Regions from separate parts of the Homo sapiens genome. Here region 1 is reported to be linked to region 2. Evidence: microRNA targets listed by miRTarBase, many of them from high-throughput screens and not tested one by one. Region 2 holds a microRNA gene; the other region holds the end of a gene's coding sequence.

Region 1 (4,067 bases), not on the chromosome of region 2:
TTCTGCCTATTCCTGCTTTGCTCTTTCCCTTCACAGGCATGGATCCCTGAGAGTTATACATAAAAATCTCTTGTACTTCAAACCCCTTTCAACGCCAGCTTCTGCAGAACCCTATCTGCGACCTTAGGTTTATTCAGCTAATAAAATGTTTCTATTGCTACACTAGAACTAAAAGGCTCTGGCTATCTAGTGATGAACAAAATAGTCATGGTCTCTGAACTCATGGGGGTTATCACCTAGTAGGGGTGGCAGATGTTAAATAAAAATGAAAAATAATAAAAACCTATTTTTACTAAGTGCCATTAGGGTCTGTGGAAAAAAACCACCCCCTACCCCAATACTGACAAGTCTATCAGCTGGCATATATGTAAAGTACTGTTTTCTTAAGATTTTGAGAATATGGATAACTACTTAGAAGTTACTCTATCAAAATAATACAATTGTTGATATAACAATTTTGTTGACTTTATTTAATCCTTTCAAATCTGCAATGTTAAAGAATCATCCAGTTACTTATGAATGTCCTTATCAAGCTAGATCACTGGTAAAATGAGACTGCAATGTGGACTTTTGAAATGAGTAAGGCAAATGTAGACTCTAACTAGTAGAGATCTGCCAGCATCCACCCTTCTAAGAACACCTCAGTTTCCTGTGGTGAACGGCCTCCTCCAGGACTCCTTTAGGTTCATGTGGTATATGGGAGGAGCATCACCTACATTTAAGTAACCAGGAACAGTATTTTCCATCCCCTAGCTATAGTGGCTGGTTCAGGAATGTGCACATAATCCAAGGCAGACCAGTAACAGTGAGCTCCTGGACTTTAGCTGTAACTATTAGGCAAGAGTATCTCATGCCAGTGGGATCAGAAAGCTAGCAGATTATAAGCCTTGAGCTTCTAGCGGCCATCATTCTGTGTGAGAATGAAACCGACTCAGAGTAATACTGACAACAGCAAAGGAAAGCACTACTATTATATTCTATTTACTATGTGTCAGGCATTGTTTTAAGAGCTTTATATACACTAAACATGTAATCCTTACAATGAACAGATGTGCAGAGATGTGGCACATTGCCCTAGGTTATACACAAGTGGGATTTGAATTCTAGCGGAATCTGTGTCCCTCATGCCATGTACACTCATCAAAAAAATGAGAGCCAAAGGATAAAGCCTGTCTCAAAGAGAACCATCTGAGCACCTACATCCAGACTGGGCCTGCAGTGTGCAGCTGGACTCTTCACTTAATGAACTCAGATTCAACATTGCATTATTCACAACAGAAAGTGAAAAGAACCTAAATGCTCTATGATGGTGGTTAAATAATAATAGGAATAGGAATATGATGGCATATACATAGCATTTTAAAAATATATTATGGCTGGGTGCAGTGGCTCATGCCTGTAATCCCACAACTTTGGGAGGCCAGGGTAGGAGGACTGCTTGAGCCCAGAAGTTCAAGACCAGCCTGGGCAACAAAGTGAGACCTCATCTCTACAAAAATTAGCCAGGCATGGTGGTATGGGCCTGTGGTCCCAGCAACTTGGGAGGCTCAGATGGGAGGATCGCTTGAGCCCTGGGAGGGAAAGGCTGCGGTTAGCCATGATCACACCACTGCACTCCAACCTGGGTGACTGGGTGAGGCCCTTTCTCACCAAAAACAAACAAACAAACAAAAAACAAAGACGTTTGTATATATTTTTATTTTTTTAGAAACGAACTCAAACTCCTGGGCTCAGCCTCCCTAAGTAGGGAGCCTGGGATTACAGGCATGAGCCATTGTGCTCAGCCCTAAAATAGTTTTGAAGAATATTTATACATAGGAAAAAATGCTATTTTTTATGCATTATAATAATTTTGTAAATAAGAAATGTACGTGCAACAAATCTACAAATATAGTAAAATATAGTGATGATCTCTCTCAAAAAATTGTGGGAAAGTTGATTTTATATTTTTTCCTGAATTGTTGGTGTTTTCTACAATAATGTTTTAAAATTACAGAAGGCAAAAGAAGGCAAATTCTTAAGATGTAAAATACTCTTAACTCAAACTACAAAACTTCTTCAGTATCTTACACTAAATTGAACCTAAATTAAACTTACAGTTCATTCAATCACAGAATGTAAACTCCATGAAGGTAACTTGATTTTTCCTGCTTAATATACTGTTGTGCCTCTAATGGCTACATCAGTACCTGGCACCTGAGTACTTGTTCAATGAAAGGTGAAGAGAAAAATGAACTGGCAGTGTATTTCCATCATACTAGCAAGATGTTTATTTAAAAACATTTAAAAACTGTTTTTTAAAAAACATTCTAGTTAAGACGAGATAATTCAATGTTCAAGCTAATAATTCTATACCATTTTAAGAGTCTGAATTTACTTTTAAGTAAAAAAAGGCAGAGAAAAAGAGTGAAGGATACAGAATTATCTTGATTATGCACTGCTGTTACTATTCCCATGCTAAAGACCCCTTTTGTTTCAATAAAACTATCAATATTTACTGAGAATGACAGCTCTGAATCAAAGGCAAGAGAAAGAGACCTGTAAATAGTGCTGTTCATACTAGTTGCCCCCAGTAGTTCCCAGGCCTCACTTCCAAGCTGCCTTAAGTAATTTTTACTTTCTGAATATAAAGCCAACTGTGGAGGGGTCAGACAGCTGAGGACTGAACTTCTTAAAAATTGGCTTCAGAGAAAAGCATAACATTACAACTGAGGCGGCCAAGCACAGTGGCTCACGTCTGTAATCTCAGCACTTTGGGAGGCTGACGCAGGTGGATCACCAGATCAGGAGATAGAGACCATCCTGGCTAACACAGTGAACCCCATCTCTACTAAAAATACAAAAATTACCCGGGCATGGTGGCATGCACCTGCAGTGCCAGCTACTCGGGAGGCTGAGGCAGGAGAATTGCTTGAACCCGGGAGGCGGACGTTGCAGTGAGCAGAGATCGCGCCACTGCACTCCAGCCTGGGTGACAGAGCAGGACACCGTCTCAGAAAAAAAAAAAAAAGTTACAACTGAGGCATCAGGTCTTAAGGTTTAAAACAGTCTCATAATTGTCACATTATCATATTATGTCAACTCTGAAAATAAATGCACACTCATCCCAGAGTCTCCAAAATCTTTATCTTTAGAATCCAACCTTGTTTTAAGAAGTAGTAAAATGAAGGAGCATTGTTAGTAGTCACCTGACAAAAGCTGTCCATTATTCTTGACATTAAAAATTGAATGCAATGATTTAAAAAACATAATACATTAACATTTACATAATATATTTAGAATCACATGGTTTCCAGTGATTAGATTTCAGTCATGCCTGGAAAGGAGAAGACAGTGGCTAGGAGCACATTCCTTATAAAGGATACATAAATGGTATACTTAGGATGACTAATATTAAGAATTTAAACACGGTGCATTTTTTTCCTCAAAGGAAGCAATTTTAGTTTCTAAAGAGCATTTACTTCTGACATCTCGATTCCTGATTTCAGTGGCTGCAGACTGTGTACTTCTGTGCCACACTTAGGACAAGTAAAGTACACGTCAAATAAGAAACTACTCTTAGCACAGAAATAACAGAAAATATGCTCACATCCTATGGTGTGAGGCATGGTGGGCCACTCTCCACATAGAGCGCATTCTTTGCCACTGGTGGCTAATGTATTGTCACTATTAGGTGCACCAGTAAGAGGAATACACCATGAAGACAGCTTGGCTTTCAACTTCTGGACATTGATAAGTGGTAAGAGAAAAATCAGAAATTCAGCAAAACCATGCCAGAGAAGTTCCCTATTCATGTATTCAAAGCCAACTTCACATATGTTTTGAGGCTTGCAAAATACAGAATGAATACCTAGGAGACGTTCTGTCAAAGTTGCAAACTTTCCCCTCTGAAGGAAAATCAAAAAATTAATCAGCCCACCTAATTTCAAAAGTCCAATCACAAAATTCACACACTGCTTGACTTTCCCAAATGATGCTAAATGATGGTTTCGAAACAAATCATAGCATCGTTCTTCTAACCACCTGCCACCAATTGTACAAACAGCATACCAGATTTTTTGATTTTT
Region 2 (4,067 bases):
GCTGGGCCCAGAAGCCGGGCTCCTGGGTCCCATTCTGTGACTCTCTTTTGTGGGGACAGGACGCCTCTGAAGTGAGGGCTATGGAGGCATCATAAGCAGGAGTAGGAGGTAAGATGCTCTCAGGGGAGGAGCCCTGAAGAATGGGGGTCCAGGAACCCAGGTTACTGCACAACTTTGATATTCTTATCCTCTTATCGCCTGGGGCAGCCACTTCCCCTCCACCCAGGTCAGAGGCAGCGGTGGTCTCTTAAAGGAGTATCGCCCCATTTCTGGCCAGCTGGCCCTGCAAGGCAACCCTCCTCACCACTTTCTCTTTAGACTCAAGGGGGTGAAAGGCCCCATTCCCCCTTTCTCTGTCCCATTTTAGGGACCTGGGAATGGGGCAACTTTCCAGGTTGAAGGACCCCCTTCCTGGAGGGAAGGATGTGGGGCCATCTCCCTCCCCACTGCCCCCATGCCAGTCCTCTTCTAGGCCCTGAATCTGACAGCTCCCTAAGGTCTGTGTGGGCCTAAACGGAGGACCCAGAGAAGAGGTCCATGGCCTTCTGGGAAGGAGTCACTGGGTGGTTTTCTCTCTACCGCTCCTACCTCCCCAAACCCATTCCTCTTGCTTCCAGAGCCAAGCCCATGGAGAGGCTTGGAGAACGCTGGGGGAAGATGGTATGGGCTGGGCTCAGCCGACGCTGTCCCCTGCCCACCCCCACACCCTACTCCCCTCCCCCAGCCAGGGGCCCTGGGCTGGGCAGCTTCCTGCCTTCCCCATGGGGAAATCGGGGGTGGCATGCAGGTGGGTGGGCCCCATGCCCACATCCGGTGGCCGCCAGAACCTTCCCTCGAGCCTCTTTCCCGCCACTCCTCCAAGCCCCCTTCTCTCCGCATAGCACCTGTGCCCCACCTTAGGACCTGATCCTCACCCAGCTCTGCCCTGCCCTCTTGTCCCCACAGGTCCCAAAGAGAGCGTGAACACCTAGCCTAGTGCCATCAGTCCACCGGGCCTGAGAGTGTCCCCCGCACTGTGCCCTGCAGGCTGAGGCTGCAGGAGGGGTGGCTTTGTGGGGTGCTGAGGACAACAGTCTCCATGGACGCCCTTCATGCATCAGCACCTCCATGGCCCTCGGGAGCACACGCAGAGGAGCCAGGGCCTGGCCTGAGTGTTGGGAAGGGAAGGGAGTTTTCTGGGCTGAGGTCAGCAGCGGTGGGGCTCAGAGAGAAGGTCCTTTTCTTGTGCTGGAATTCTGGACTCCCCGTTTTGGGCACTCACCGAGGGCCCTGTCGAGGAGCCCTGGTCTTCTGGGGTCACCCTCAATGCCCTGAGTCAGTCCCAGGCTCTTGAGCCATCCCTTGGAGCTGGTGCCACGGGGGGAAGGGCAGCTGGGGCCGGAAGCCACCTGCCCAGGGCATGAGAGAGGGTCCCCAGCCCTCCCGCGGGCCCACCCCCTTCTGTTTCCTGTCAGTCTGTCCTCCCCAGGGAGGGAGGGAGGGAGGGCGCTCATCCCCTGCGGGCGGGGGCGGGGCGCGCTCTGAGACCGTTGGGCGCCCTGAGATCTGGCCCACGTGGCCTCGGGGTTATAAGCCCTGCCCTCCCTGAAGGGAACCCCACTTCGGAGCCTGGAGCACAGGGCGAGCTCTCCTCCGCCCTGCAGCCTCAGGTAAGGATCCGGACCTTCACTGCTGCCCCAACTGGGGCTCCTCAGCTCGGGGCCTCTAGGGGCTTGGGCTGCTGGTCTGGGTGGAGGCGCGTTGGGGGTGTCGAGGAGCTTGGGTGCAAGCCCCATGCGGGAAGCTCAGGGCAAAGCGCCTTGAAACCCTCTCTAGTGAAGGAAGGTAAAATGGCTCCGGGACCCCAGGCGGGGAAAGAGGTGTCCAAGGAGGAGGGCTGGAGAGTAAGGCGGGGATGGCAGAGGGTACGCAGAGGCTGAGAAGTGGGACCAGTGTCTCAAGGGGCGCCAGCCTCTTCCTCCGCCCAACATGGCCACCATTTTTGTTGGGATAGCCTTGGGCTCCTGCCAGGGGAACAGCAGGGCAGTGAGGGAGTCAGGACTTTGGGCTGGTGGGGAGGCCGAGAATCAAGGCTCTGGGGAGTCAGGACTTTGGGGCTGGTGGAGTGGCTGGGGACTGAGGCCCTGGGGGGTCAGGACCTTGGGCTGCTATGGAGGCTGGGACTGAGGCTCTGGGGGAGTCAGGACCTTGAGCTGGTGGGGAGGCTGGGAATTGAGGCCCTGGTGTGTTCAAGACCTTGGGCTGGTGGGGAGGCCAGGGCCTGAGGCCCTGGGGGGTCAGGACCCTGGGCTGTTGGGGAGGCTGGGGACTTAGGCCCTGGGGGGTCAGGATCTTGGGCTGGTGGGGAGGCTGAAGGGTGGGGACTGAGGCTCTGGGCAGTCAGGACCTCACGGTTGGGGTGGACTGGAGACCAAGACCTTGGCAGGGGAGCTGTGGCTGCCTCATTTGGACGCTGGAGGGTGGCTAGCGTGGCTGGAAGCGGCCAGCCAGGGGTTCACAGAACTGAAGGTGAGGCCTCCAGAGGCCCTAGTCTCTACCTGAGTGTCTCTGAAACTGGGGGGATGGGGTGGAGCCTTTAGGGGGAAGGGAAGAGGGAACTGAAGAGGAAGTGGGGGAGGGAGGTAGAGGAGGCAAGTCTGGCGCCATGCTGAGTCACCGCCCACAAGGCCCAGGGCGGGCCCTCGGGGGGCCCTGGCAGGGTTGGGGGGATCTTAGGAAGCCACAAGGAGGGCTGGGGGGCTCTTGGAGCAGGAGTCAGGAGGCCTGGGCAGCCTGAAGAGTACACGCCGACGGACAGACAGACAGTGCAGTCACCCATAAAGTAGAAAGCACTACTAACAGCACTGGAGGGTGTAGTGTTTCCTACTTTATGGATGAGTGTACTGTGGGCTTCGGAGATCACGCCACTGCTGCCGCCCGCTGCCCGCCACCATCTTCCTCGGCGCTCGGGGACCTCGTGTGACAGGTGAGCACCTTACGGCCCCTCCCTACCCTGCCCAGATGCCTGAAAGGCCTCCATGGCTTTCCTGCCCTTCCTGGTTCCGGACAGCTGGGGAAAGGCCACAGCAGCTCCTCTGCTGCCCTGCAGTCTTTGGGGGCGGGGAGGGCTGGACATGTGGAACCCTGATGCAGCCGCAGCGTCAAGGACGAGGAAGGGGTGGGAAGGGATGGTACGTGGAGGGGAATGGGTGGTGGGACCAGGGACCCAATGCTAATAAAGACTGGACTGTGCTTCTCTTTTGTCTGAGACTCTGTTGCTGGGGTGGGGAGCTGAATGCGGGCGGCAGGCACATGGACAGTATGGGCGCACAGAAGGGCTGGGAGGGAGAACCTCTGTCGCTCCTCCAGAAGATACGGGTTTGGCCCTGCCTATGAGATCAGAAGAGGGCTCTGGGCCTGGCCAGGCCACAGCCGGAGGAGAGAAGGGCCTGGGCCATCTGCAGAAAGGGGCAGGGATGTAAGGCATCCTCTCACCTTCTACCCTAGCTCTGGCCCTATCCTGCCCCCCTACATACCCAAACTGAAAGCTGCCTACATCCAGTTTTAATCTAAGAAAGTCTAGGGGGTCCTAGGTCATATAAAAATTGGGCAAAATCCACTGTGGCACATACACAGCATCTTAGACAAGGGCACAGACACTCATATACAAAGCACACACTGAGATGCAAATGCATTTACACACAGAGGCCCCATTCAGTGTGCCAGTAACACACACACAGACACATGTGACATGACTGGCATGACACACACAGGGATTACACACACCCAGGGCACATACATATTCAGTAGTACACACATGCAATGATAGAAACATAGGGCGTGTCTTACACATAGAAGAGCACACACATACAGTGACATTTGCATAATAAACACGGTGGCTCCATACACATACATAGATAGAGACATGTTCATATATCATGATAAATATAGAATACATAGATACATGGTGATATATATATATAAATCAAACCATGTCATTATGCATATTTACATGACGATATGAGCATGTCATATATTGTGTAATCAATTACTACATTGTGCCATATAGTAGCATCCATATCTATATA

What was found. Region 2 holds the annotated microRNA hsa-miR-142-5p (CAUAAAGUAGAAAGCACUACU, at 2,816-2,836, shown strand). A microRNA usually pairs through its seed, bases 2 to 8, with sites in the 3' UTR of a target mRNA and lowers its output. Matches are read on the target gene's strand: a 7mer-m8 pairs with bases 2 to 8, a 7mer-A1 pairs with bases 2 to 7 and ends in A, and an 8mer does both.
Region 1: the mRNA of PEX2 is a reported target of hsa-miR-142-5p. Seed matches in the 3' UTR shown: 7mer-A1 at 3,354-3,360 and 7mer-A1 at 2,626-2,632.

Annotation. Positions count from the first base shown.
Region 1 is chr8:76,979,815-76,983,881 of GRCh38, forward strand. PEX2 (peroxisomal biogenesis factor 2) reads right to left here. Exons shown (of 4, transcript NM_000318.3): 4 at 444-4,067. The coding sequence ends at 3,447. Among named protein-coding and RNA genes, the nearest start is that of MIR3149, 15 kb to the left of the region's middle.
Region 2 is chr17:58,330,052-58,334,118 of GRCh38, reverse strand. It overlaps MIR142 (microRNA 142), which reads left to right and starts at 2,801; the gene lies at 2,801-2,887. The region is part of intron 2 of TSPOAP1-AS1 (TSPOAP1, SUPT4H1 and RNF43 antisense RNA 1); the gene reads right to left. It overlaps MIR142HG (MIR142 host genes), which reads left to right and starts at 1,599. Exons shown (of 1, transcript NR_186557.1): 1 at 1,599-3,231. RefSeq lists enhancers at 452-541, 1,132-1,201, 1,702-1,771, 2,572-2,711 and a silencer at 1,282-1,591.